Linked DNA regions of Homo sapiens: regions 1 and 3 are each linked to region 2. Evidence: fine-mapped expression QTL. A gene starts in region 2. Each other region holds a variant in brackets. All regions are shown on one strand. Distances are between the middles of the regions. Region 1 overlaps INCR1 (interferon stimulated noncoding RNA 1). Region 2 holds the start of INCR1 (interferon stimulated noncoding RNA 1). Region 3 overlaps RIC1 (RIC1 partner of RAB6A GEF complex).

Region 1 (10,413 bases), 22 kb after region 2:
CAGTGAGCCGAGATCACCCCACTGCACTCCAGCCTAAGTGACAGAGGGAGACTTTGTCTTAAAAAAAAAAAAAGCCTCATTCAGTTTATGTTTGCATGAAATATGATACATAGTATTACCACATTCAGGCCATATGAGTAAATTATACATCCTCCAAAATTATATATATACATTTGTCTTTCATTTACTTATGACCATTTACTCAATGTTCTGTTTTTAACGTGTTAGCATTTTCTTTCATTATTCCAGTTATTAATGGTTGCATTTTCTGGAATCTCTTCTTATTAAACTTGGGTAAATATAGAATACATTTGAAAAGAACAGACCAAGAGAGAACTTCTGAAAGAAATTCCATTCAATCAAGCAATCAAAGAACCATCCAGTGTGTCAATATTCAATAATCCCCCAAAACCTTTGTCTCCTGTCTCACAATGACACTGTCAGCTTCAAGAACAGGAAACCATCATCAGAGGCTTCTTCCTAGAGACTGCAACCCCATGCTTTCCTTCCAGCATTGCCCCATCCACTCCAACTGGGTCCTCCTTCTTCATAGGTCCACCGTTTCTTTGCTCTTTGTCTTAGTTTTGGTTCCCCCAGAAGCCAGATCCTAAGGCATTAATATGTACACAAGTAGCTTACTTGGGTAGTGATCTCAGGAAATATGGGCAAGGGAAGTGAGACAAAGAGGGAAGGCAATCAATAAAAAGGGCATGTTTTCAAGTGGGTTAGTACTGTGGGTAATGGACTTAATCCCTCTGGAGAATTTTGGGTACCAGTGTAAAATTCATGCCTCTGAGTTACTCTACCAGAGTAGCAAAGGAGCTGAAGTATTCATACCCCAACTCCTATCAATCATTAGTTAAAGGCTGCACTTAAGGCATTACATCTCCTCAAACCTATGCTCACATATGGAGCTCCAGCCACCAGAGAAGGCCATTAAGCAAGATGGTCCAGCTGCTGGCACTTGGTAAGGCTCAGGAGACATGGGCAGGGCACCAACTGTATCTGCCACACTGCTATCTGTGATCCCAATCTAGTACACTAAGACCCATGATTAAAAGCCAGGGATTACAAAATAGGAAAGAAGATCAAAGGCTTTGGAGTCAGACTGATTGGTTTCAAAACCTGATTTCTTAACCTTTCTAAGCTTCAAAATTCCATAGAGGATTGTTACGGAGATTGAATAATGTAATCCATGTAAAAGTATCCAGTATTGTGACTAGCACATAGTACATATTCCCAAAAATGCTAGTTAATAATATTAACACCTGATCCCCTCATGGAGACATAAAACTGAACAGGACCTACTTTGTTCTCTGGCCAGATTGCCCAGCAGGGACCCAGCAATTCCAGTTTTGCTACTGGCATAGCATTTACACTGGTGTCGGTGAGCAGAACTGACTAAAGGACTGGGCCTCAGTTCAAGTAGTCATCAAGATATGGCCAGATGAAGCCCTGCATTGTCATCAGTGCAGAGTGGGTTGCTTCAAGCTGCGTGGGGCTCTATGGAACCCGGAAGAGTAGATGGATCTCCTAAGGAAGGAATAGGTTCTAGAGCAAGCCCACCTGGTGGTCCAACTTAGCCTCTTTACACTATTTTCCTACCCAGCCACTCAGTCTAAGTTTTTTAATGTTTATGAGAAAAAGGGAGAAAAGAACTAGTACTTATCCTTCTCAATATCAAGTTCTAATGCAGCAATATAACTGCCCTTCCAATAAGCAAAGTATTTTTGGAATTCCTTAGTTCAAATGAAATTACATGGTTCACATGCTCAAGGCATTTTTTTCCAAATGTTTTTCATTCCCAGTCAGTAGAGACCAGACTTTTGGAAAAACTCAAACTTTCATTAAAGCTCAGCCATGCAGGATATAAAAGCTGGGTGGGTCCACTTTGATTTTGCTTCGTTGCTAACCATTTCCACTTAACTGACAGCAAGAACAGATTTTTGGAAGAGAATGCAAAGGGCATGGAGAGGCCCGTGACATCACATAAAAACTCTAGCAAAAGAAAACTTAGAGAAGAAAATTTACTGTATTTTCCAAACAGCAGAAAACACTAATTTTTCAATTTTTAATATAGAATCTGAAATAAATATATAGCAAATTTATTTCAGTACAATATGGTATTTTTCTAAATCACTGATCATGAAGACTACAGTTGAAATACCAAATTTTAAAAAACAGCCACTAATATTTATAGACCCCTAATAAAAATATTGCCTTCCCTTGGAAAACCAAACATCATATGTTCTCACTCATAAGTGGGAGATAAGCTATGGGGATGCAAAGGCGTAAGAATGACACAATGGACTTTGGGGACTCAGAGGAAGAGTGGGAAGGGGGTGAGAGATAAAAGACTACAAATTGGGTTCAGCGTATACTGCTCAGGAGATGGATGCACCAAAGTCTCACAAATCACCACTAAAGAACTTACTCATGTAACCAGACACCACCTGTTCCCCAAAAACCTATGGAAATCAAAAATTAAAAAATAAAAATATAGGAAAGTGCTTTGTACATGTCAAAAAATGTTGCCTTTCTTAATAAAAATAAACGGTTCTCCAAAGTTCACTGGAAGGAGAATCTCCACATGGGGAAGAATAGCTAGATCTTACATCCTGCTAATTTTGTCTTCCCTTGGCCTGTGGGGGAGGGCGCTATTCCCCTCTTTACTATTGTCCTAAGACCAGGCAGTGGACTGGTTTGATCCCAAGAACACTCCCTAATAAAATTCCTTCACCCCAATCTCTGTCCAGACTGTGCTTCACTGAGAACCCAATTTGTGGCAGTTACCCATGGCCAAAGTACATAGACCTTAACACTTTAACTCCCCAAGTCTAGACCCAGAAAAGTGAGAACAAGAAAAAGTCAAAGCAGCTTATTGACTGTGTGGAAGTGGCTTTGTTCAATTGATTGGTGGTGGTAATGATCACTCCTTTACAGGAGGAAGTTAGCCTTTCTCTTTTGAGGTTTCTACATGATAACCATATTGGAATATATCCCAATAGGTAGAGTATCCATAAAATTGTGAGTTGTGGGTTTTGGGGGCATTTTGTTATACGCTATCTTAGAAATAGAGTCCAAATCAGTTAATAAAAAAGAAAAGGGAGAGTGACAATATTATTGCATAGAAACGAAAGAAGTACTGATACATCTCACTTTGTAAAAAAAGAAACACATTTCAGAAAAAGTTAGCTATGAATTATATTTTTATATTAAATTTTATTTTAAAGTCAGTAATGAAACACACCATCTAAAGATTTTTATGACAGTTTTTTGCAGCGAAAAGCTTACAAATTTACATTATTACCTTCCAATTTGTTATTTTGTGAAACTAAAAATGATAAAAATTTCTTTTTTTCTTTTTTCTTTATGAAAAGGGTTTCCCACTCAAAATTTATTTTTATCATTTAAAATGATAAATGATTAAAATTTTTTTATCATTTAAAAGTGTTACTCTTTTAAATCACTGAGATGATTTAAAATAAAGTATATTACTGAAAATCTTAAAACCACAGCAAGACACTTAATATAAAATTACATTAAACTCTAATTAGTTTCTTTTGGCCCAATATTTTTAGATAAAGAAATTACTTCAAGTTGCATATGCTATAATGTTCTTGAGATTAGCCAAACTTTTTCGCAGTACTGGAACTTTGTTGTATTATTATTGCTCAAAATAAATTCATTGACAAAGAGTTATTATTATCTCCCTAACAATTTTATTTCTAAGGCTATGTTTTGATAATGGTTTTAACATTCATCCTGGATGAGTGGCTAAGAATCTGGAAATGAAAATTAGGAATGTACTTATCCTCTTCTGCCAAAGAGTGTTTTCTTTTTCCCCCAGATTAGTAGTCACAGAGTAACCATGGATTATGGTTACCAAATTGGTACCAAATTTGGATCTCGTATGGAGAACTCGGCCTTAGCTCGAATGCAGCAATTCACATTTAAATAAAATGAATATTTAGATGCTGTGCTCAAATTTAGATAAGAGTATATTGTAGTGATTCTGGGGGAAATCAGTCTTAAGATCACATCTATTTGCAGTGGAATGAGGAATTTCCTTTGGAGAATAATTAGTAGAACTATTATTGCAAAGCTGCCTAAGCCCTCTTATGTGATATAATCAGAGGCAACTGGCAAAAGAACATGAGTCAAGAATATCCCTCGGACAGCCTGTACCTAGATCAAAAATACTGACGTGCACTCTCTTACGAAGAGTTTCAGATGCATAAGACTTTTTTTTTTTTT[A/T]AAAACAGGCTTCTAGGTAACAAGTCACTTCACTTCTCTGGGCCTCTTAAACTTCTCATATGAAAATAGACTAGATGAACCTGGAGAGACATTTTCTGCCTGATGTGGAAAGTGAAAGTGAAGAAATTAGCTGTATTTCCTAACACTCAGGAGGTAGGTGCAGGGTCCATAGCTCCTCCAGCTCCTGTGGATCTTATGCTTCAGCTTCTCTAACTCTTGGGTCAGAGGTGTGTTTAACTCCTCCTCCACCAGAGGTTTGGAGGTGGTGAGAGACCAATGCAGATTCCAGTCCATCCTCATGGATTCCAGTTTGTCCTCGCTTCCTGCTCTCTACCTCCTGACCACTGGTCCTGTGAACTTCAGCTCCAGCACTAGACACAGAAACAACAGCCTCCCCTAGAGAGTATAACCAGCTTCCACAATTGCATACAGTCAAGTCTCTAAATCCGTTTTGTCAATTTATCTTAGTAGTTCTACTTCTATGAACAAACCTTGACTGATTACATTTGGGTTGTTATGTTTTTAACAAAAAGTGCTACTGTGCATATTCATGTTCATATTTTCTGGTGCACTTGTGCAAGCATTCCTCTACAATATATACCTGAGCTTACATATTGCTGGATTGTAGAATGTACAGTACTTAACTTTGTAAGATAATGCCAAATCCTATTCCAGGGTGGTTGTGCCAATTTATGTTCACACCAGCATTGTTTAAGAGTTCCCGTTGATCTGTCTTTGGGAAAAATTAATATAGTAATATTTCTTTTTAAATGTTTTTTAGAGACAGGGTCTCACTATGTTGCTCAGGTTAGAGTCAAACTCCTGGGCTCAAGTGATTCTCCTACTTCAGCCTCCTAAGTAACTGGGACTACAGACATCCACCACTGCACCCAGCAGTAATACTTAACTTTAGTTCATCAGGAGAGTATAATATGTTTACTCATTATAATCTTAATTTACATTTATATGATCACTGTGAAGTAGAGAATCTTTTCATGTATTTTTTCTTCATTCATATTTCCTCTTTTGCAAAATGACTATTCATGCCTCCCTTTTTTGTGGCATTGTTTGTCATTTAATTATTGATAAATAGAAAGAGTTCTTCATGCATTCTGGAAACAAATCCTTTAGTGTTATATGCAGTGGTGTACTGGAGCTGGCTTGTGTAGACTCGTCTGAGAGATTTTGTGTATGTCTTCCTAACTTCATGTTTAGCAACATCATGTTGGTGGCTTGAAATAAACTTTTCCACCTTGAAAAGAATCAAACCCAACAAATCATGGCTTTTTTCATCTCTGCAAAGCTAGGTTTTTAAAACATGTATGGGCGTACCACTAGTTATATATAGCAAATATCTACTACTGGCTTGTCGCTTGTCTACAAATTCTTGTTTGGAGTATTTTGAAAAATAGAAAGTCAAATTTGTTAATCTCTTCAGTTTTAGATAAGTTTTTTGGGGTGTTTTGTGTTCTCAGTTTCAGACAAGCCTGTTTTTGTTTTGTATGTGTTTTCTTTACCCCAGGAAACTAAAGATATTATCCTATAGATGTTTAAAATATCAGCTTTCACATCCAAGTCTTGCATGCATCTAGAATTGACTTACGTATCATGTTGGGTAGGAATCCAGTTTCATTTTTCCCCATATTCTCCCAGCACCACTTATTGACTAATTCTCCCTTTCTTGATTATATACAATACCACCTCTGTTATATATGATGTCCAAATATGTGTGGCTCTGTTTCCCAAGTCTCTACTATACCATTAACCCATTTGTGTATTGCAGCGTTAATACCACTCTCTTAATTAACTTTGTAATCAAAGTCCTCAAACAGGATAAAGCATACCTCCTACCTTGTTCTTCTCCAAAAGAGTCTTTGTTATATTTTTGACCTTTGTTCATCCATAGGAATTTTAGAATCAGCTTCTTAGTTTCTTGGGAAAAAAAGTGTGATTTGGCATCAAATTACACTGAATCTGTAGGTCAAATTGGGAAAAACTGGTAACTTCACAATAGAAAGTCTTCGTTTTGAATGTCGTCTTTTATTTATTTCTATAGTAGATCTTCTCTGATGTTTATCAAATAGAGTTTTAGAATTTATTCCATATAGGTCTCCTATAACTTCATTAGATGTAATTTATACTTTTTTGTTGTTATGGTGTATTAGTCTTTTATGCTGCTAATAAAGACATACCAGAGACTGGGTAATTGATAAAGAACAAGAGGTTTCATAGACTCACAGTTCCACGTGGCTCGGGAGGCCTCACAATCATGGCAGAAGGCAAAGGAGGAGCAAAGTCATGTCTTACATGGCAGCAGGTAAGGAAAGCTTGTGTAGAGGAATTCCCCCTTATAAAACCATCAGATCTCGTGATATTTACTCTCATAAGAACAGCACAGAAAAGACCCAACCCCGTGATTCAATTACCTCCCACCGAGTCCCTCCCAAGACATGTGGAAATGATGGGAGTTACAGTTCAAGATGAGATTTGGGTGGGGACATAGCCAAACCATATCATATGGTAAACTGCTTTTATACTTTTTAAATTTTCTGTTTGTTGCCAATGCTTAGAAATATATTTGGTTGTGCGTATTGGTCTTCTATTCAGCCATGTTGGTTAGCTCTGTTATTGTTAAATTATTATTTATTTTTGAGACAGAGTTTTGCTCTTGTTGCTCAGGCTGGAAGTGCAATGGCATGATCTTGGCTCACCGCAACCCCTGCCTCCCGGGTTCAAGCGATTCTTCTGTCTCAGCCTCCTGAGTAGCTAGAATTACAGGCGAGTGCTGCCACGCCTGGCTAATTTTGTATTTTTAGTAGAGATGGGGTTTCTCCATGTTGATCAGGTTGGTCTGGAACTCCTGACTTCAGGTGATCTGCCCTCCTCGACCTCCCAAAGTGCTGGGATTACAGGCGTGAGCCACACACCTGGCCAGCTCTGTTATTATTACCAAGAATTTGCCTGTAGATTTTGTGGGACTTTCTGTTTAGAGAATTATATCCTTATGAATGAAGTATATTCCAATACTCCTACCTTTTATTGCTGTTCCCAATCTTTGTACTTGTTGCTGCTTTTTCTTGTCTTAATGCACTTAGAAAATCCACTATAATGTTGAGTAGAAGTAAATAGGACTTCTAAGTCTTGTTCCTGATTTTAATAAGTCTGCTCATTATCTGCTGCATCTTTTGAGATTATCATATTTTTCCCCTGTAGTCTGTTAATGCGGTAAATTTTACATATATATATATATTTTTGTTTGTTTGTTTGTTTGTTTGGTTTTTGAGATGGTGTTTCACTCTTGCTGCCTAGGCTGGAGTGCAATGGTGCGATCTCAGCTCGCTGCAAACTCTGCCTCCTGGATTCAAGCGATTCTCGTGCCTCAGCCTCCCGAGTAGCTGGGATTACAGGTGTGTGCCACCACACCTGGCTAATTTTTGTATTTTTAGCAGAGAAAGGGTTTCACCATGTTGGTCAGGCTGGTCTCAAACTCCTGACCTCAGGTGATTTACCTGCCTTGGCCTCCCAAAGTGCTGGGATTTCAGGCATGAGCCACTGTGCCTGGCCAATGAATTATATTTTTATATTTTCTTTTCTTTATTATTATTATTATTATTATTTTGAGACAGGGTCTTGCTCTGTTGCCCAGGCTGGAGGGCAGTGGTGCCATCTTGGCTCACTGTAACCTTCACTTCCAGGCTCAAGTGATTCTCTCACCTCAGCCTCCCAAGTAGCTGGGACTACAGGCATGTGCTACCAAGCCTGGCTAATTTTTGTATTTTTTTTGGTAGAGACGGGGTTTTACCATGTTGCCCCGGTTGGTCTCTAACTCTTGGGCTCAAGTAATTCACCCACCTTGGCCTCTCAAGGCACTGGGGCTACAGGTGTGAGCCACCATGCCTAGCCATATTTTTTATTTCCTAATGTTTAACTGCGCTTGCATTTCTGGTTAAACTCAACTTGTTTATGATGTATTATCTATTTGAAATAAACTCCTAAGCTTGTTTCATTAGTATTTAATTTGAATTTGTAGCTATGTTTATGAGTGAGATTGGTTCAAAAGGTTTCTTTATTGTCCTGTCCTTCTTTGGTTTTGCTATCAAGGTTACGTTAATATCATTGAGTGAATTGTGTCATAGTCCCTCTTTTTCTGTTTTATAGGACATTTTTAAAGATTGGAATGATCTCGTTCTTGAAACCTAGGTGTAAGTAATTTGTAAACATATCTGAACTAAATATTTTCTTTGTGGGAAGATTTAAAAATATTGATTGCATTTCTTTGGTAGATACAAAACAATTCAGGTTCTCTGTTTTTGAGTAAGTTTTGGTAAATTATAGTTTTCTAGGAATTTGCCCATTTCACCTAAGTTTTTGAATATGTGGCCTAAATTGATTCAGAGTAGCTCATCTAAAAAAATCTTTGCCTTGTCTGTGATTAGGTCCCTTTTTATTCTAATATTGCTTATTTGTGCCTTCTTTTTTTTTCCTCGCTCAATCTCAGCAGAGATTGTTCTGTTTATAAAATAAAACTTTTAATTTTGTGGATTCTTTTTTTGTAGCTTTGTTTACTTTTTTCTGAACCTCTGTTTTTATCTCTGTTATCTATTTCCTCCTACTTTGATTGTTTTTCTATTTTTCCTCCTAATTTCTTGAGTTGAACACAAAGCTCATTAATTTTTAACCTTTCTTCTTGTCTGAAACAAGCTTTCAAATTAATAAATTGTCCTTAGAGAATGACTTTGACTGTTTTACAGAACATGGTAGGTGATATTTTCATTATCATTCGGCTTTTAGGATTTTTACATTTCTTCCATAATTTTTTCTTTGACACATGAATTACCTACAAGTGTGTTTCCACATTTTTCAATATATAAGAACTTTTATAGATTTATCTTTTGTTATTGCCTCTAACTTAATTACTTTGCGCACAGAGAATGAGGACTGTGTTATAATTTTGTGAGACTTGCCATATGGTCTAATAAATGGACAATTTTTGTAATTGCACTATGATATTTAAGAAAAATAAGTGCATTTGCCAACTGTTGGATGCAGAATTTTTATCTATTTGATTGTTATTAATTGTGTTGTTCAGATCTTCCATATTTTTAATATCTTTGCTTTGGGTGGTCTGTTGGTAATTGAGAGAGATATATTGAAAGCTCTCATTGGCAATTTCTCTTTGTAGTTCAGTAAATATTTGCTTTATATATTTGAAACAATTTTTCTAGGTGTAAAACTTTGAAGTTATTATATCACTGACAATTGGAACGTTTATAAAAATCAAGTAGTGGTCCCTCTCTAACTCTAACGATACCTATTTTCATCAGTCTATTTTGTGTGATTTTTAATATACACTTCTGTTTTTTTGGTTACTGTTTTCCTGCTACATCTTTCAACCATTTTGTGTCTTAAGTTTTAGGTTTTTCTTTTGAAAGAGCATGTAGTTAGAGGTTTTTTGTTTGTTTGTTCCCCAATCTGTCTTTTACTATAAAGTTTAGATTTATATTTATTATAATTATTAATATATCTAGACATTTTCTACCACCACACTTTTAATTTTTATTTGTCCAACTTTTATTTGGCTTTCCCCCTTTTCCTTTATTGCTCTCTACTCAGTTGATTGGGGTTGGGCTTTTGTTTGTAAGTTTGTTTTCTTTTTCCATTTTTCTCTCTTCTATTTTAGAAGTTATTGGACTTTTTGTTATCTGAAAATTGACTATAGTGACTTAGAAAAATTGCACCGAATATTCTGTATCTGAATAAAAAATCCACTGCAATGAATTCACATTCATCTGCTAGCAAAAGACATTGAAATTGCATGTAAGTCCAAATGAAAAGATGTAGAGTCCATTTCAGTCATAGCCGTTCTCTAGTAAGCTCACATATTGTGCTCCCATTACTTAAATAGGCATGGATTGTCACTATTACTGTATTTTCCACATTATTAAAGTGAAAAAGCTTATTAAAGGACAGAAAATGCCATAGAGAAAATAAGTGAATGTAAAATATTCACTGCATGGACACCAGACATTTACTGTTGTGCTCACTCCTTTACCAGCTCACTCTTGCCTAATATAATGCAATTATTTCTCATCAAATGAAAGCACACTGGCTTTCCCTGACCCAAAATAAGATCCAGAGTTCCTTTATCCATCTTTA
Region 2 (10,413 bases):
GAGATGGGCAGATCACTTGTGTCCAGGAGTCTGAGACCGGCCTGGGCAACACAGCAAGACCACATCTCTTCAAAAAATTAACTAGGCATGGTGGCATGCATCTGTACTCCCAGCTACTCAGGATGCTAAGGTGGGAGAATTGCTTGAGCCCAAGAGGTCGAGGCTGCAGTAAGCCATGATCATGACTCTGTACTCCAGAGTGACAGAGTGAGACCCTGTCTCAAAATAATAATGGTGATGATGATGAATAAAATCTAGTATTTGATAGTACAACAGGGTGACTATAGTCCTGTATCAAAATATCCCATATACCCCACAAATACACAGATCTACTATGTACCCACAAAAATTAAAATAAGAAGAAGGATCAAAGACTTAAATGTAAAACCTGAAACCATGCAAATCCTAGAAGAAAACAGGGGAAAAACACCCTGACATCTGTTTTCACGATGGTATTTTGGATGACATGGAAAGCACAGGTGACAAAAGCAAAAATAAACAAGTAGGATTACATGAAATTAAGTTATTGTACAGTAAAGAAAACAATCAACAAGATAAAAAAGCAACCTATGGAATAGGAGAAAATATCTGCAAACCATACATCTAAAAGGGGGCTAATATTCAAGATATGTAAGGAACTCATACAACTCAGTACCGAGAAAAAAACAAAACAGATAACCTAATTTAAAAATGGACAAGAGATCTGAACAGATGTTTTACCAAAAAACAGCCAATGGCCAATAGGTGCTCAATACACTAATCATCAGGGAGATGCAAATCAAAACCATAAGATACCTCACACCTGTTAGGATATCTATTATCAAGAAGTTAAATCATAACAAGGTCGGCAAAGACGTGGAGAAAAGGGATCCCCTCCCTGTACACTATTGACGGGACTGCAAAATGGTACAGTCATGATGGAAAACAGAAGTTCCTCAAACTAAAAACAGGACTACCACATGATCCAACAATCCTACTTCTAGGTATATATCCAAAGGAATTGAAATCAGTATCTCAAAGAGATATCTGCACTTTCATATTCATTGCAGCATTATTCAAAGTAGCCAAGATACAGAAACAACCTAAGTGTCTGTCAATAGATGAATGGATAAAGAAAATGTAACACACACACATACACACATAAAATATTATTCAGCCTTTAAAAAACAAGGAAATCCTGCCATCTGCAACAACATGGACAAAACTTAAGGACAGTATACTAAGTAAGCAAGACAAAAAACAACTTCATGATCTCATATATGGAATATAAAGACGTCAAATTCATAGGAACAGAGAATAGAACGATGATTACCAGGGGCTGGGAGGTGGGTGAAATGGGAGTATTTCAGTCAAAGGTACAAATTTTCAGGTATAAGATGAATACGTTCTGGGGACCTAATGCATGGCCCAGTAACTATCGTTAATAATGACATTTATTTCCATAATTAACATATATTGTATACTTGAAATTTGCTAAGAGAGTAGGTCTTAAGTGTTCTCATCCCACATACAAAAAAAGAGGGAGCTGTGTGAGATGGTGGATCTGTTAATTAGACTGATTGTGATTATCAACTCACAGGGTAGATCTAAGTATCGCACAGCACACCTTAAATATATACAATTTTTATTTGTCAATTATACCTCAACAAAGCTGGCAGTAGTGGGGAAGCAGTAGTTCATCAGAAAAATGAACACTTATGGTTACGGTAGGTAAAGAATGACTCATAAAGAAAGGATTTCAACAGCAGTTAAAGGATAGATAATACTCTGACAGGCAGAAATGAGGCAAGAGAGCATTCCAAGAAGGGAGTGTCTGTGATATCAAACTAAGGAGTTTGAACTCCATTCTTTCATCAACAGTGAACCCTAGAAGACTTCAGAGCAGTGAATTTATAAAGAAGGCTCTCTGGAGAAAGTAATAGAGTTAAAAGGGTGAGAAATGGGAATGCTGGGAAAATACAAATAAAATGGTCTTCCTGAGGTCAACACAGTTAATCACATACCTGATCCAAAGCTTGGTTCTTTTGACATATCATTGTTTTTTTCCATGATTAGCACATACCAATGGGAACTAAGTTTTTGCTCAGGATTACTAAACGACATATAATTTATTTTATAAGCCTAGTAATTATTTGCCCATTTCAGCTTTTTATTAGCTACCTACAACAGTGATATCTCACAAGATTTATATTAACACACTAACATCTAACACACTAACATATAACATGTCTCTTCATCCCTTTTATACACATCTGTCTTTTACAGTTGATGTTCAAAAATACTTCTGAAGCTAATTTAAATGTTTAAAGTCGGTGACCTGAAAAACGAGAATGTCTATACATCTAATTTAGAATGGCTAAATTCAAAGATACCATTCTGATGTTCACATATATAGACTTTCATAGTCACAGTTAGTATATTAAAGGAATAATTCTGGGCCCTCAGTACAGTACAAAATGTAATTCATCTCACACTACACCTACGTCAATCATAAATCATAACCTACCTTATGCAACAGTTTCATCCTCAAAGCTGAAACTAGTCCTTTTACAATAACCTTAGCAGAAATGTACCAACTGCCCCCAGTCAAGTTCTACCTCTACCACCCCAATCTAGCCTACACATACTGAGCCTTTTTTTAACACCATTTGGGGGGCTCCAAAATATAATATTGGGGCTCCAATATAAAAAAGCTAAGTAACTATCTAGAGGCTCTTTTGTTCATAAACAACACTATACTGTATTTCTCAAATTTGGGGTAGGAAATAATTCTGAAGAGATATGAGTCTAAACAGTGGAATTCCGAATACCTACTTAGAATAGAGGACAGTAGGTATAAGTAGTACATAAAAGTTCATTAGAAGACCCATATAATGTACAGTTAGAGATTTTAATAGAGATTCAGTCTTATGAATTATCACTGTACACATACAATTTCCACAATTCTTTTGAACATTGAAACAACCAGCTTAGACTACTAAACGACTGTCCCTTCCACAAGGCTAGTTGTCTCTTTTTAAAATATATCACTCCTAAGAGAGCCTGATTTACTAAGTGAGCCCTAACAAAATTTCAGGTAAGCAAATCTTGTTTTATCATCTCTACGAGCATGTCTCCCTGCCTTCAAATGCCCTCAAGCAGCTGTAAGACTTCAACTCTGTAAAATCCTGTAGATCTTCACATATTATTATAAAACTACTTGTATCTACAGCCTCTCAAAAATCAAAGCTTTTAGCAGCTCCATGAGAACTTTTTAAACCAATTCACTCTAAATTATGGAAGTATAACTGATAGCCCTTTAATTTACCTAAAGGCATTTTCACTTTTAAATGAAGTTTGTTAACCTAATTAACTTACATACTTTCAGGAAGTTTACAAATTAGAAAATCAAAATGAAAACTTTCATACAGAGTAAGAAAGGGCATATCCCAGGAAGAGAAGATTGGAAGCTGGAGTCTAGCATATGTATCCCACTCACCTAGGCATGTAATCATACACCTTATAATCACTTGGTTCAATATTTGATTTTTTTTTTTTTTTTTTTTTGAGACAGAGTCTTGCTCTGTCGCCAGGCTGGAGTGCAGTGGTGGGATCTTGGCTCACTGCAACCTCTGCCTCTTGGGTTCAAGCGATTCTCCTGCCTCAGCCTCCCGAGTAGCTGGGGCTATAGGCGTGCACCACCACGCCCAGCTATTTTTTTGTATTTTTAGTAGAGACGGGATTTCACCATGTTGGCCAGGATGGTCTCGATCTCTTGACCTCGTGAATATCTGATTTTTTTCAGTGACAACAAAGCTGGTGCCCAGAGACCAAGGTTAACCACTCATACTACAGTACTATACAGCCTCCTCTAAGGTATTCCTGCATTTCATTTCACTCCAGACCTCTAAACCCATGGGTTCCCTACAGCCTAACTTTTGCACAACAGAACTTAATAGTAGGGGTCCCTGGACTTCTGTGGAAAAAGGAAGTTGCATGTGAGGTGGGAATTTGAAAGAAGAGTATGAATAGTTTAAATTCCAGAACTGCCTTGGATTTCTAGATGTCGTATGTAACTCCAAAACCAAACAATAGACATGCTTAAGAATATTCACAATGTCCCTAAATTAAAGCATATGTTTATGCTTCTCTTATGGGGGAATAAAGTGGTTTACAGGCTTCTGGTCAATTCATAGGTCATATTGTTTACTTTTATTTAAAATTAAGTTAGGTCTGCCTTTTTAAAGGTAAGAAAAGTTAAATTTTAGACGAAAGTCTAAATTTGTTACATTCAAAAGGAATTATGTATTAAATTCAAAAGACAATTTAAATTCAAGTTCTATTTTTTTCTGCATGTGCTTTAAAGTTGAGTTATATACACCTAAACAAATTAAAAATTATTCAACTGGCATATACATTGTAAACGAATATCTCATTTAGGAACCAGATGATACTTTATATATATTTACACATATGTTTATATATATACACACACACATACATACATATATATTCAAAATACAATCAGGCACTAGACAAAATAGTCATATTGTTGGTATTACGATTTTATAAGTTTGTTTTGTTCTGATTTGCATTTGAAAATTAGATCAGCCAAAACTTGATGGCAAATAGTCTGATTTACAGCCCAACTATGACAGTCAAAGGAGACACCAGAATTACCCGTCACTAAATCCCATCACCAGTATTACCAGGGAAGTGGGTGAGGACTGTCAAGGGCATTACAGGTAATGGAACAGCAACACACAAAGATTTGGGGATTTTAACAAACTAAAACCAGTATTTCACGAACACCTAATAAGGACAAGATCACAACCTATCCCCACATGGTCAAATTAACTTGGAAAGGAGAAAAACTTCACTCTGACATCGATTGGTACTGCCTTCTTTGGGGAGGAAAAAAAGCATTTTTATACTCTGAACTCTGTCGTTCTCATAGACAAAGTTATAGCAGTGTTTGCAGAGAGTAGGGAGTATCCCATCCACCACTTATTTCTTTCTCATATCTACTCAGTAATTCAATACAAGAAAGAAAAAGATAACCAGGACTTAAAGCAAAAACAGAATTCAGTTCCATGCTCCTCCCAAGCCTTATTATTTCCAGGTGTTATAACTGGGAGTTCCGCGGACAGATTTGAGTTCTACTTCCGCTCCTTTAACCCCCTATTCCGAAGAGTCCAAGAGCAGCAGCAAAGAAAAAGACCAACTCGAAAGTGGGGAAGGGATGTTGGGGTTAAAGAGGGGAGTTAAATAACCAGACCTTTAGTGAAGAATAAAGAATTCAGGCTGTAGTTTGTAGAAATAAGTTATTACAGGCCTGTAAAGTCTGGCGCTGGGTAAAGCCCAAGAGGCTTTCCCTAACTCCAAAACGGCGACCTTTAAAGTAAGGGAGGGTTGGGGCACCACAGCGGCCGGATTTCTAATTGTGGAAAGTTTAAACAAATTTGTCCCTCGGGGAATGGGGGAAGGGAGAGAAGAACAAGTCTGGGCTCGGCCGGGGAGCGTGCGGAGTCTGCACGCCGCGGCCGTCGGTCCAACGCGGGGAGGCTCAGGGATTTTCGGCAGCAGCGACTTCATCCACCCCGGACCGCCGGCTGGAGGACGTGCCTGCAGCCGGCGGGTACCTGCGGCCAATTCGGTGGAACGAGGACGCGGACTGCGAAGGCAGGTGGGTCTGGCACGAAGGGGCAGGAGTCCTAGGCTCTGGGTGGAAGTTGGGGGTGGGACGGCGCCGGGAGGCCGGGGAGGCAGCGGCGAAAGGCGGCGGGCGGCTCTACTTACTCGGCTGTACCAGATGCTGAGGCGGGCCGCGGCCAGCACGGCGAAGAAAGCCCTCTGCGGGTCGGACTGAACGTGGAAAGGCGCCTCGGCCGGGCTCCCCAGAGGGCACAGCAGCCTCTTGGGCCAGCCGCTCAGAAAATACATGGTCCGTGCGGAGCCCCCGGCGCCCCCAGTTGCGTCCGTCACACTCAGCGGCCCCGGGCTGGTCGCCCACCTCCCACACCGCCACCGGCCGAGTCGGCGGCGGCGGCGGCGGCAGCTCGGGGCATCTGCCCGCTGGCCTGGCCGGGCCGGGCCGACGCAAGGCTGCGCGACGAAGGCACCCCCAAGCTGACGGGGCCGAGTGTGGGGGAGGGAAGGGGAGGGAGAGTAGGGACACAGAGAGGGCGGGAGGAGCGCGGAGGCCCGCCCCGACCCCGCCCCTTCCTCAGGCCGCGCGGGCGTCACCACGCCGCGCCGCGTGGGTCGGGCCGGGGAGGGCCCGCGCGCGCGCTCTGGAGACTCCTGCGGTCTCCCTAGCTGTTTCTTGAAGCTCTGCATAAGCCTCGCCCGCGGCCGCCGGGTTGCGTCCGCACTTCTGCGCGCTGGCCCCTCCCTTGCTCCTCTCCCTAGCAGTCTCCAGGGTTTTACCGGGAGGACCTAGGCAACGGCCTGAGACTCCGAGGCAAGTGGGGCGAGTCTAGGGATAACGCAGCAGCAAGGCTACTGGGCCGGTGGAACACGCCCTGGCCTGGCCAAATTGGACCTCCCTTCCGGATTGGCGGGGTCTCGGTGGGGGCGGGCCGGTTGCCGGGGGGAGCTGGAGTCACGTGACGGCCGGCGCGGTTTCCCACTTTGGGCTGCCGGCCGCTGTGGCTGTGGTGGGCGGTAGGGGCTTTTACCGTGTGAGCTCCTTTAATGCCGGGGTCTGCAGTGAGAGCTGGTGATGAAGCTCCTGCCGGTGTGGAGCTTACATCCCTAAGGGAGCGTTTATTTAATCAGTAAATAAACCACTCACCATGAAAGTATTGAGTTCTGTCTCCTGCCTTTCAGGAGTTCTAAATCTATGTCTTTGAAATCCATTTCCATTCGTCTCAGCCTTACCAGCCATAACTTTAGATGAGAGGAGGCTATCTCTTTCGTGCTGCAAAAGGCTTGGACTTAGTTTTAGAACTGGAAGGGACTGGTGATAGCGTAGGTCCATATTTAGCTTTTGGACCCCAGGTATCACCTTAGCTGTAACTTTCAACGGATTGACCCAGTGGTAACGTCTGAATAGAAGGAGGGTTGAGGGGATATGGTGTGGAATGGGGGAAGGAGGAGTCTGAAATAGAAGAAAGATTTGCTTCTCATTGTCTACCTTTTTTAGTACAGTTTGAATTTTTCCATATGTTTGTATTACTTTTTCAATTAAAAAGCCAGGTTTAAAAAATGACCCCACATTAAAAAGTAGCAACGTAGGCGGGGTGCTGGGGCTCACGCCTGTAATCCCAGCATTTTGGGAGGCCGAGGCGGGCAGATCACTTTAGGTAAGCAGTTCGAGACCAGCCTGGCCAACATCGTGAAACCCCCGTCTTACTGAAAATACAAAAATTAGCTGGGCGTGGTGGCAGGTGCCTGTAATCCCAGTTCCTCAGGAGGCTAAGGCAGGAGAATCGCTTGAACCTGGGAGGCGGAAGTTGCAGCAAACCAAGATCCCTCCACTGCACTCCAGCCTGGGCAACAGAGTGAGACTGTCTCAAAAAAAAAAAAAAAAGTAGCAACATAAACAGAAAAAAGGAAACAAAGAAACTTAATTCATATTAGATATAGCATTGTAGCTGGTATTCATAACCAAATATGTAACTTTCTGTAATTTTTCTAAACATTCACTGCATTCCCTGGAAGGTGATGATAGAATCCTGTATTCCTCAAATGGAGGTTGAAACTGCCTCACCACTCACCAGCCTGTTGCGATCAGATTGTCTCCTTGGCGTCTACCCTCCCCCAGTCCAACACAGCAGCCTGGAACATAGTAAGCATAGTAAGCTGGCAGTATTTGTCAGACAAACCGTGGAGGAAACCCTGATCCAGCTGAGCTACACCATTAGACAAAGAGGCCCAGAGAGGTTTCTTAACTTGCCAATTTCAAATTGTAGAATAACAAAGTTGCATCATACTTTCATCTTAGATTCAGTTATGCACTTGGCAGAAAGAGGAAATGAAAATGTTCTAGTGCAGCAATTTTGCTGGCAGTGTTACTGAATGTTTGTCCCAGCTGTCTCTCAGAGAGTCTTTGTTCTCATGTGTCTCAAGTTTGTCATACTGTGCTCATGGGCAATTTAAGGAACTTCTAAGCAATTTTTATTGCACTCAATTTTAACCTTACTTGCTGACTTTAGAAGCTTATTCCTCTGCCACACTCCTGTGTAGCACTTAAGATTCACAAAATAATTCCAAATGCTTGTCTTGATTTAATTCATAGTAAACATTCAAGGTGAGTGACATTGGTGTGATGTTGTTATTCTCACTTTCTCAAGTGAGGAAACAGGACAGGTGTGGTAGATGTGCCTGAATTCACATGGCCTGAAAAGAACTGATGTTCTTTCTACAGATCCAGTGTGATTTCTTTCTTTTTTTTTTTTTTTGAGGTGGAGTTTCGCTCTTGTTGCCCAGGCTGGCGTGCAATGGTGCCATCTCAGCTCACTGCAGCCTCCACCTCCTGGGTTCAAGCAATTCTCCTGCCTCAGCCTCTGGAGTAGTTGGGATTACAGGCATGCACCAACATGCCTGGCTAATTTTGTATTTTTAGTAGAGACGAGGTTTCTCCATGTTGGTCAGGCTGATCTGGAACTCCCGACCTCAGGTGATCCGCTCACCTCGGCCTCCCAAAGTGCTGGGATTACAGGCGTGAGCCACCGCACCCAGCCTCCTGTGTGATTTTTTTAAAAATTTAAGGTTTGGCTGGGCGCGGTGGCTCATGCCTGTAATCCCAAAACTTTGGGAAGCCAAGGCAGGCGGATCATGAGGTCGGGAGTTTGAGACCAGCCTGGCCAATATGGTGAAACCCTGTCTTTCTGCTAAAAAAAAAAAAATACAAAAATTAGCCAGGCATGGTGATATGCACCTGTCATCCCAGCTACTCTGGAGGATAAGGCAGGAGAATTGCTTGAACCTGGGAGGCAGAGGTTGCGGTGAGCCGAGATCGCTCCACTGCACTCCAGGCTGGGTAACAGAGTGAGACTTTGTCTCAAAAAAAAAAAAAAAAATTAAGGCTTATGGCATCCCTGCATCAAGTAAGTCTATTGTTGCTGTTTTTCCAACAGCATATGCTCTTTAGGCTGAACTAAATTGTGGTAATTGCTCTGGACAGTGAGAGGGAGTGGGGGAAACCTCTAGGTCTTTCTCCCTGGCGGGGAGAAAAGGAAATATCTGACTCTCCAAAACCCTATACTTGAGAGTTCCCCTATTGTGACAAAAATGTTATTGGCTGGATTTTTCAACATCATTTCTTTTTCTTTCTTTCTTTTTTTTTTTTTTTTTGAGACAGAGCATTGCTTTGTCACCCAGGCTGGAGTGCAGTGGTGCAATCTTGGCTCACTGCAACCTCCGCCTCCCGGGTTCAAGTGATTCTTGTGCCTCAGCCTCCTGAGTAGCTGGGACTACAGGCATGCACCACCACGCCTGTCTAGTTTTTGTATTTTTAGTAGAGATGGGGTTTCATCATGTGCCAGGCTAGTCTCCAACTCCTAGCCTCAAATGATCCACCAGCCTCGGCCTCCCAAAGTGCTGGGATAACAGGTGTGAACCGCCGTGCCTGGCTTCAACTTTCAAATATCATATTTTAACTTTATTTTGTAAAATATACTGACAGTTCTCATGCCTTAGGTCTTCTCCTCCTTTTTCTACTAGTTTCCACCACCACTCCTGTCAAAATTTTTGGACTCTGTTCTAAGATTAAGCTTATGATAAAAGTTAGTAGGGGGCCGGGCAGGGTAATCACGCCTGTAATCCCAGCACTTTCGGAGGCAGAGGTGGGCGGATCACTTGAGCCCGGGAGTTTGAGACCAGCCTGGGCAACATGGTGAAACCCTGTCTCTACAAAAAATCAGTCGGCACTGTGGCATACACCTGTGGTCCCAGCCCCTTAGGCGGCTAAGGCAGGAGAATTGCTTGAGCCTGGGAGGCAGAGGTAATAGTGAGCCAAGATCATGCTATTGCACTCCCACCTGAGTGAAAGGAATGAAATCCTGTCTCAAAAAAAAAAAAAAAAGTTACTAGGTGCATGTTTTCATCTATGAAACTTATAAACTTTTTAAATTACTAGAAATAATGTTGGTAAGAGTACACATAAGAAATGGGGATACATTTATACTCTCTTGATGGAAGTATGATTTGGTGCAATTTTTTTTTTTAATATAAGGTTTGTGGTAACCCTGTGTTGAGTGAGTCTATTGGCACCATTTTTTCTAATAGCATATGCTCACTTCATGGCTCTTATCACATTTTGGTAATTCTTTCAATATTTGAAACTTTTTCATTATTAGTATATCTGTTATGATGATTTGTGGTCAGTGGTCTTTGTTGTAACTATTGTAATTGTTTTGGGGTGTCATGTACCACATCCATGTAAGATGGAGAACTTAAGCGATAAATGTTATGTGTGTTCTGACTGTT
Region 3 (10,413 bases), 110 kb before region 2:
AAGTTAAGTTCATTTTCTTTTAGTGTATACCAGATGTCAATGTAGGAGATAATCCTTCAACCTTTCACATGACCATTTTTTTGTCTCTCATTATCTTCACTCAAAGTCAACTGAAAATAACATGGGAGCTGAAGTAGGCTAGTAGGGTAAACATATAGAGAGTCAAAGTAAGGCAAAGAATTATGGAAACAGAAACTGACTAAAAGAAACTAAGAGTGGGCTTTGATGTACCTAAAATATTTTGCTATCAAAAAGGGAAAGAAAACAGTCGGAAGACTGAAATTATGTATGCAAGTTTCTTTTAAGAAACTTCAACTTACTGGTTTCCCCAAAATAATTTTACTTGGTATCAAAATTGAGAATTAATTTCCATGTTAAATGTCAGTTTATCAGAATTACTGTGAGACACTGTTAATTTAAAAGTGATATCAGAATGAATAAATAATTTGGAATAAGATTAGCTAATAAAAGTATTAACAATAAAGCTCTCTACTGATCACAAGTCTGCAATTTGGGTCCAAAGTCACATGATTAACCTCAACGTGGCCCCTTAAGACTGTAAGGTCAGCTGTACAGAGTACTAGCTGATGTTGCCACTTTCCATGAGATTATTACACTTTGTTTTGCCTGTGCAAATCCGTAGAGCTAAATTTATACAAAAAAAGAGGCTGAAAGTAAAATAAATAGTTCTCAATGAGAAGGCAAAACATAAACTTCTAGTTCTTGACATTATTAATAGACTTGAAACAGGTGGGGATACACTCTACGCCAAGTGGAAAGAAAGGAGGGAGAAGACTAGAGGACAAGAACACAGAAAAGCAGAAGAGGGACATGACAAAATGGTTAAAAGGATTCTCAGTTGCCTGAAGTTAACAGATGAAATATTTAATAATCTGTTCCAGGTGATATCCTATCAAAGAATAAGTCTCTAGTAATCAGTAACTAAAGATTTACCTGTACAACATGCCAATGCCGATGTCCAAGTAAAGTGCTTAATCCCTGAGACTCTAAACCTCCATCTGCAAATGGGCTCTTTTCTCGACTGGGCTTATGCTCAGAGTGTGTTGAAGAACTCCTGGGATTCTGGGTTTGTGAAGCCTCTCCACAGTTCAAGTACAAGCGATCCTCACCCTGAAGCAACACCTGCTCTTGGTTACTCTAAATGAGGGAAAGAGGAACAAAAGGGCAAAGGAGGAAAACAAATAAAAACAACTCAATATTACGCAGGCAAAAATAACACATCGATTTAGTTTTATTATAGGAAATGTACATGTATCTCGATGTTGATTTTCTTCACAGAGGACAAAGACTACACAATAATCTCATGCACTGTTATAATTAGAAAGAATAGTGCTCTTAGTGACTATGAGATTTCAGCTAGAAAGCCAGTGTTCTCAAAGGTGAGTAGACTCATTAACTATTGAAATCAGACAAAGTAGCACCCTACCCTTGTCATTTTTCCATTTTAGTCCAAATGCTGGCTTGACATAAAACTCAAGGGTGCTTTTAAATTATTATTTGGGATGGGGAAGGGGAGGGAGAAATGCTCTCTTCTTTTCTGGGGATCCTTAGTCTTCAAGTGGAATAATGGATCTGAAATTCAGGCTATTTTCACATTTTTTATGGATGTTCGTAAATTTTAATTAGAAATTTGTTGTACCAAATATCCATTAAAAAGCCATTGATGGTAGGTATTAAGATACACATTTCTAACATGTAACATATACCATTACTGTATATTAGCGATATATAATAATATTAGTATACACTATTTCAGATAGAAATACAAGAGGCAGTGTTTGGGGCGGTGTTTCTAAAAGCAAGTCCTCAGACATACTTTCTTTAAGCTATTTCTTAAAAATTCACAGTTAAATAAGCATGGGGAACACTGTTTTTAATATACCACCTCCTGGATTTTCATGATGCACAATGGCATATTTAAGCCTCTGGAGCCCTACAATCAATCTCTACAATTTTGTTTTACCTTTATTTGACACTTATATGGAAACAAAACTTTTAAAAAATCCTGTGGAACTGCTACTAATATCTCTCATAAGTAGTGCCTGGAGGAACACACTTTGGGAAATGCTATTCAGATAAAGACTAAATTACTCAAATTATTTAAATAAATATATAAACATTGCTTTCCGTCAAATTGCTTATGACCCTTTTAAAAAAATAAGACCAAAGAAACACAACCCGTTGAGAAATAAAATTTTGGTATAAATTTAATATAAATTAAAAAGAAACACAAGAATCATAGAAAAGAAGATAATATGCCAATTTTAGAAGTATACGCCATACATATGTCATAAAGAAGGGTCTGAGCTTCTAACACAAAAGACACTAAAAAATCAGAGCTTTAAATATACTTACCATACAAGGGTTTACAGTGAGTACACTCTTAATAAACTGAAATAACAGGATGCTGGGCTGTTTAACTACACTCCTGAGGTCAGACTCAATTTCAGTGTTTTGAGAACCAAATCCGCTGATTACCCATAGGTGATAGCCTTCTGCACCCCAGCTCTTAGAGAGAAGAGGAGGGAGAAAAAAAGTCAGAGCAATAAAAGGCTTTTGTATCCCTTTCTAGCTTCAATTATTCAAATTCTGAAATAGCCAATGATAGCATTATTAATGATTTGTGAAGGTTGGAGAAACCGTGATAACACAGACAAGAATCACACCTTCAGTTACCTCTTAACTAACTCCAGAGGAAATCACCATCACTGCTCTCTATCTGCAAAAGTGAAAACATTACCTACCATTCTTAATGCCAATTTCAGGGTCTTAATCCTAAAAATACCTACTGTGCTCTGTAACTTCTCTATTGCTTTAATTTAGCTGCCTCTCAAATACAAAGAAATTCCTTACAGAAGACACCCCAGGTTACCCAGTAGAAGCCTGGCAAAGAAGCCCCTACAACAGATGCAGTTTTGTATGGAGCAAAAAACATTGGATTGGAAGCTGTGAGACTAGAGTCTTCATTATAGCTTGGCTTTTTGTATATATTACCTTGGCCAAGCTGTCTCGTTTCTCGGGATATAAGTTTCTTCCTCTGTAAAATGAGAAGGTTCAAATAAATTCCTCCAGAACCATTCAGTTTTAATATTCTGTAACTAGACTCCATGATAGTATTTTTAAAGATTAGTGATTCTCAATCTTCAAGCCAAGAAAATGGTGAAGGGGCAGGGGTAGCCCATGAATTGTTGCAAAATTTCAAAAGTTTAATAGAACTTTTATGTTTTCCTATGATAAAGCTGCCTAAGTTTTAACTAATAATGCTTAGATTCTTAGTTTGTGGTTAAAATATCAACTTAGTGAGACGGACAACACTGGTTCTTGCATGCCATTCAGAAGCACTGATTGGTATTTATAGAAATGTGTGGTGAAAACTTATTTTAAACTATGGAGGTGGGCAAAGACATCAGAAGGGGTCCTTGGTGGTGAAAGTTTGGGAACCACTATTTTAGGCAACCATGGCGGTTTTAATTCTACAAGAAACTCAAGATCAGAAGAATGTCTTCCTCTGTGGAGCAAGAGAGAAGAGAAGCGACAAGCCTCATAGTCACTAATTTAAAAAGGATGGTATGCAGAGGGGCTATAGCAAGAAAAACTTGTTATGTAAAGACAGGGGTTTTATATCTCTGTTTTCTACAGAAACTCTTGAAAATAGGTAAAAAATAAAAATACAGGTTAAGCCTCCCTAATCCAAAAATCTGAAATGCTCCAATAGCTGCAACTTTTTGAGGGCTGATATGACACCACAGTAAAAAAATCCCACACCTGACTTCATGTGATGAGCTGCAGTCAAAATTTTGTTTTATGTACAAAATTATTACAAATTCATTACATTAGCTTCAGTCTATGTGCATAAGGTATATATAAAACATAAGGGAATTCTGTGTTTAGACTTGAGTCCCATCCCCAAGAATGTATTTGCAAATATTCCAAAATCCAAAAAGTTCCAAAATCTGAAATACTTCTGGTTCCAAGCACTTTGGTTAAGGGGTACTCAACCTGTATTGTTTACAACAGTGACCATAATTCTCTTTGACATACATCTATGTAAATTTTAAAAAATATGCTCAAGGTACTGTATACATATATATAGATATATAGATACAGATATCCTCAAGTAATGCACAAGTGCATGTCCTCCAGGAAAAATGCCCAATGAGCATTTCACCTCATGTTAAAAGCAAGCAGGCCATGAGAAGACACATACAAAAAAGGCCTCATCTGAACAGTCATTATCATCATAAAGATGACAGGGGTTTGCTGGCCACATCTAAACAAAATGCAAATACTGAAAACCAGGCAGCCTTCCAATTAAAAAAAAACAAAAGACTTTCATCAAGCAAGAACTGTATAATGAAGAGTCTGCTGAGACTAAAATAGTTTTGTGATTTTATCAGATCAACATGAGTGAAAAAAGGGGGCCAGCCTGGGCAACATGGCAAGACCACGTCTCTACTAAAAATCAAAAAAATTAACCGTGTGTGGATAGTGGTGTGCCTAGAGTCTCAGCTACTTGGAAGCTTGAGGCAGGAGGATCGCTTAGAGAGGCTGCAGTGAGCTATGATCTGCCACTGCTCTCCAACCTGGGTGACAGTGTAAGACCCTGTCTCAAAAAATTAAATAAATAAAAATGAGTGAAAAAAGGGAAGAAAAATCCAAGTTTTTTTAATACCATGCCAATTTTTTATAGAAAGTACTTACCATAGAGTTGATCTTAAGGGGATCTTTTTTGGTGCCATCAGACCTATAACTGAAACAGAACAGAAACTAAATATAATACAGCCTTCCAATTACATATAATACACATAAAATTTAGTGTTTTTTAAAAAATCAAACGGATTTTGCTCCTTTAAAATAGAAATACATAATAATGCATGAAATACAAAACTGTGGGTTAATACACCTAGGTGTATATATCTCTCAGCCACATTTTCCGAGGTCCAAGTGACTTCTTGCCAGAGATATGCAGCTTTTAAAGGTGTGCTCATTTCATCAGAACTGAGGTTCAGGGTAGTATATGAAGTGGGCAGAGATACCAACCTACTCCTATCAATCACTGGGCTAACCTACATTAACCTAATGAGATAACGTAACTTTCTACTATTTATGTACATGCCTTACCACCCTCATTAGATTATAAACTACCTAAAAGCAGAACCATGCCTGATTCTGCTTTGTGTCTAACATGCTGTCATATATACAGCAGGGGTTCAATAAATAAATACATTTTTGTGGAATGAGATGTACATTTTTTAAAAAATGAATGTTCAGAGAATCAGTATATTCGAACAGATTATGAACTTTGCAAATTGTTTTAAGGTAAGAGTCAAGGCAAAAAGGGAAGTTCTGACACAAGGTTTTTGTATGCATGCATTGTGAGAAATAATGGAGTTATTTTATCTAAAAATTGTCTTTTTTGACTTACGCAAAATCTCCTCCAAGTGTACAAATCAGCTGTGCTCCAAAAACACTCCATAAAGAAAGGCCTCCGTATTCCCAGGTCACTATTACAACACTATTGTCAGGAGACCATCTCATCAATTTAACAGCTCCTGTTTTATTCCAAATGTCTGTTAGGAAATAGTGAGAAGAGTTAAAAATAAATAGTTGCTTCAGAAATACTTGTTTTTTTTTTTTTTTCAAATACAATCTGTATTTTCAAATCTAAATGAGTAGAAAGGTATGACTGCTTCCAAAAATAAATCCTGGTCATTTAGGACTACTTAAAGTTAGTAAGGCCATTAGTTTTGTCCTGATCTAAGCAGAACAAACTCAGTGCACAGGTGATTTGTAAGAAGTGAAAGCTGTTTCTAGTCACTATTAGCTTGATTAACTTATAACTG[C/T]GTAATCTTAAAAGTCTTTGGCTTTGTATAAATCAGTTTCTGTAAAACAAGGATAAGGTTACAGTAAAAGCTGTCTTTAGAAAAAAACATATGCAGGCCTTAAAAAAAGCTACACAGTAAGAATGATTAAAAAAACGTAAGGAGCAAATTTCTATTTCTGGAAGTACAGCAAATGACACCCTGAATGACTTCCACACTGAAAAAACTAAGATGGTGAATAGAATACTTAAATCCTCAAAACAATAAAAAATACTGAGACAAAGTGCTTGTTCCCTGAATTTTTCTGCCAAACCCTGGAGACCTTTACTTCTACCTCTGATGACTCACAGCATGTTAGGAACAGGAGATAAAGCTCAGAGCTTGCCCAAGACAGGTAATCTAACAAAAGATACCCATGTAAAGCTGGGACTACAATGGACTATATCCATGGTATAAGAGAGAATGAGAAAAAAGCCTCTGCCATGTAGGAAAAGAATTAGCAAGGAACACTTTCATGTTTCATCAGTGGAAGTGAATGGAAAATAATACTCCCTTGATAATCTGAAGCCACAAACCCTCACTCTGATTTGTAATTTGTGCAATTTAATGTGGTTCAAACAGAGAATACAATGCAAAGGGTCACAGACTGATGTAGTGCTCCCAAGTGACCAGCGGAAGCAAAGAAATTTAAATCCTCTCTGGAAAAACTCAAATGTTATCCAGTTCTCAAAGCGCTACACACACAAAAAATATGCTTCAAGGAAAACAATCGGCTCTCAGTCAAAAATCCTAAAATACACACACAAACGAGCAAGAACACAAAGAATCAAGACATGGCAGAAACAGACTCAGAAAGGCTTCAGATTTTGGGATTAACAGACACAGAATATAAAATAACTGCTTTTTATAGCCAATGAAAATAAAGGAGAAGACTCAAACAAGGAGCAGGATGCATACAGATTGGAAAAAGAGCTAAATAAGCCTTTAAATAATAAAAAATACAATAACTGAAATTAAGAACTTGATGGACAGATCAAACAACATTATTAGGCATAACTGGAGAGGATCAGCAAACCTAGATGGAGAAAAAATTTCTAGAATGCAGTCTAGAGAAACAAAATTTTAAAAAATTTAAAGTTAGGTTAAGAAACATGGAAAAAAGTGTAATGTATATCTGAGTTCCAGAAAATAGATTAGGGGAGAGGAATATTTAGAAATACTGGTTGAGAATTTTCCAGAAATAGTTCAAAGATGTAAATCTTCATCCAGCAAGCCTAAGTCTCAAGCAGGATTTGAAAAACAAACAAAATTCTTCCCTTCCACATCACAGTTGAACTGCAGAAAGCCAAAAACAAAGACAAGATCTGAAAGGTAGCTATAAAGACCAATCTATTGAAAAGAGAAGACAACTTGACAGAGGACCTCTCAATAGCTGCAATGGAAATCCAATGGCACTGGAACAAATTCTTCAATGTATAAAAAGAAAATAACTGCCAATCCAAAACAGCACACCAAGTTAAACTATAATTAAATCACAGCAGCAAAATAAGTACATTTCAGACTCTCCCAAAGTAGAGTTTACCTTCAAAAAACTTCATTAAAAGAAATTCCAAGGGATGTATGGGAGGTTTTTCAGGCAGAAAATGGTCTCAAGAAGAAGGTATGAGTTGGTCAAAGATATGGTGGGCAAAAATACTGGTATAAATGTGGGTAACACTAAGTCAACATGAATAGTTAAATATCCTAATTGTGATGGTTAACACTGAGTGTCAACTTGACTGAATTGAAGGATACAAAGTATTAATCCCGGGTGTGTCTGTGAGGGTGCTGCCAAAGGAGATTAACATTTGAGTCAGTGGGCTGGGAAAGGCAGACCCACCCTTAATCTGGGTGGGCACAATCTAATCAGCTGCCAGTGCGGCTAGAATATAAGCAGGCAGAAAAATGTGAAAATAGAGACGGGCCTAGCCCCCCAGCCTACATCTCGTGTGCTGGATGCTTCCTGCCCTCAAACATCAGACTCCAAGTTCTTCAGTTTTGGAACTCGGACTGGCTCTCCTTCCTCCTCAGCCTGCAGATGGCCTATTGTGGGACCTTGTGATCATGTGATCATTTATTAATACTTAATAAACTCCCCTTTATAAATATGTATGTATCTATTCTATTAGTTCTGTCCCCTAGAGAACCTTACTAATACAGATATTGGTACCAGGAGTGATTCTAGAGGTACAGAATATTAAGGATGGAGTTCCTTCATTGGTTTTGGGGTTTCTAGAGTTGGCTGCCTAATATCATTAGACCCCAAAATGCTAAGGACTCTATTTCTAATAGTACGCACTGACAGTCCTTGACGTGAACTGTTTATATAGAGTTATGCAAAATAAATGCATTTGGCACTCCTGATTCATTGCTTGTGAGACGCAAGGAGTTTAGTGACTCTATACATAACACCTTTGACCATATGTGGAGAATCAAGGAACATAATGAAGCTAGTTGGTTGCTCCTAAGTTCAGTGAACAAGGTGATGAAAGAAAATGATGAACTCAGGGATTCCATCTCCCAGAAGCAGATACTGAGCCTCAAAACTGCTAAGATTGCCCTGAGTGAGGGTCTTATCTCCTATAGAGAAAGAGCTAAAATTGTGGAAACACAGAGACAAACTCTTATCATTTGAGTGGCTGATCTGCAACAAAAGGTGCATGCACAGCCTCACCAGGTGTCTACTGTTAAAGTGAAGGCACTGATTGGAAAAAAATGGGACCCTGCAACTTGGAAAGGGGATGTGTGGGAGGACCCTGATGAAGCTAGATTCACTGAGTTTGTAAACTCTGGTGAACCTTTTTTTTTGCCAGAAGAAACAGCTTTCCCCATCCCCAATAGTGGCAACATCCCCTCCTGGACCCATGCTGCCATTAGCCCTTCCACCTTTGTCTGAGGATTATAAACCCTGTGCTGCCTGAGGCAACAGTGATGCCCTCCCCTGAGGCAGTCGCCAGGCAAGATAATGTTGATTCTCCTCAGGAGCCACTCCCAACACCTCTGTTTGCTTCTAGACCTATCAATAAAGTCCTGGCAGGCCTCTAGAGGTGAGGTTGAGAGTATGACCCATGAGGAGGTGCACTATGGGAACTGCTTGAGTTTTCTAATTTACATAAATAGAAATCTGGAGAGTAGGCATGGGAATGGATATTAAGGGTGTGGGATAATGATGGAAGGTACACAGAGTTGGATCAGGCTGAATTTATTGATTTGGGCCCACTAAGTAGGGATTCTGCATTTAAAGCTGCAGCTCGGGGAGTTAAAAAAGGTTCTAATAGTTGATTTGCGTGGTTAGCTGAAATATGGATTAAAAGATGGCCCACTGTGAGTGAGCTGGAAATGCCTGATCTCCCTTGGTTTAATGTAGAGGAAGGGATCCAAAGGCTTAGGGAGATTCAGAAGGTGGAGTGGATTAGTCACTTTAGACCTACTCATCCCAGCTGGGAGGGTCCAGAAGATATACCCTTGACTGATGCCTTGCAAAACAGATTTACAAGGGCAGCAGCTACATCTTTGAAGAACCCTATAATTGCACTTCTCTGTATGTCAGATCTAACAGTGGGAACCTCAGTCACTCAACTACAAAATTTAAATACAAAATGGGAATAACTGGATCCGGAGGTAGCAGGGGCCAAGTGACGGCACTCAACTATCAAAGGTAAGGTGGGCGTAGCTACTGTAATGGACAGCAGAAGCAAAGCAGCAATCAGAATAGTCTGACTTGTGTAGAACTTGGGCATTGGCTAATTAATTATGGTGTTCCTGGAAGTGAAACTGATAGGAAGCCTACTGCATTCCCACTTAATTTATACAAGCAGAAAACTTCTAGGTCAAATGGACAAAATACTAATTTGAATTATTAAAACAGAATCACGGCCCCTCAATCAATTTCCAGACTTGAGCCAGTTTACACACCCAGAGCCCCAATATTTGACCTATAGCATGACATGTATTGTTTAACTTAAAATCAGCATCTGCTACAAATGGCAATACCAGTACATTAAAAATGTTAAAAAAAAAAAAAAAAAAAAAGACTCACCAGGATACTGTTTTGCTGTTAGCTCTAATTTATGAGATAGCAGCATGGCTCCAGTGCTGTTATCTATTGTATAGACCTGCACAGAACCACTGTGAAAACAACAACGAAAAACTTTTAGTGAAAAAAGACAAATACAAATAGAAAAAGCATTATAGAACTCTTATGTTTTGCTGGTGGGAGTGTAAACTAGAACAAAACCACTTTGTCAATAAGTTGCAGTCATCTCATAAATTTGAACAAAGGCATATTCTAATCTAGCAATTTCACTTCCAGATATATCCCAGAAATTATTGTCTAATGTTTACTAGAGATATGTACAATGTCCATTGTACTATTGTGATAATTTTTAAAAAAGGAAATAGCCTATCTAGCAACATGAGGAAAAAAATGAACTTTTATTTGGCTATAGTACATATGGTATAGCAATATAATACTATACCTTACAGCACTGAAAATGAATGAACTTTAGCCACATGGATAGCGAATACAGTT

The links.
Region 1: its variant is fine-mapped to the expression of INCR1 in whole blood (INTERVAL, PIP 0.93).
Region 3: its variant is fine-mapped to the expression of INCR1 in sun-exposed skin (GTEx, PIP 0.97).

The regions. Positions count from the first base shown.
Region 1 is chr9:5,602,938-5,613,350 of GRCh38, reverse strand. All of the region lies in intron 1 of INCR1 (interferon stimulated noncoding RNA 1), which reads left to right. Among named protein-coding and RNA genes, the nearest start is that of RIC1, 21 kb to the left of the region's middle. RefSeq lists an enhancer at 4,278-4,327. The variant A/T (reference allele first, on the strand shown) is at 4,258.
Region 2 is chr9:5,624,819-5,635,231 of GRCh38, reverse strand. INCR1 (interferon stimulated noncoding RNA 1) reads left to right here and starts at 5,505. Exons shown (of 3, transcript XR_007061406.1): 1 at 5,505-5,665. It overlaps RIC1 (RIC1 partner of RAB6A GEF complex), which reads right to left and starts at 6,125. Exons shown (of 26, transcript NM_020829.4): 1 at 5,779-6,125. The coding sequence starts at 5,922. RefSeq lists enhancers at 5,305-5,805, 7,716-7,935 and a silencer at 5,826-6,365.
Region 3 is chr9:5,738,047-5,748,459 of GRCh38, reverse strand. RIC1 (RIC1 partner of RAB6A GEF complex) reads right to left here. Exons shown (of 26, transcript NM_020829.4): 8 at 9,922-10,010; 9 at 5,447-5,591; 10 at 4,723-4,771; 11 at 2,377-2,529; 12 at 955-1,158. Among named protein-coding and RNA genes, the nearest start is that of ERMP1, 90 kb to the left of the region's middle. The variant C/T (reference allele first, on the strand shown) is at 5,865.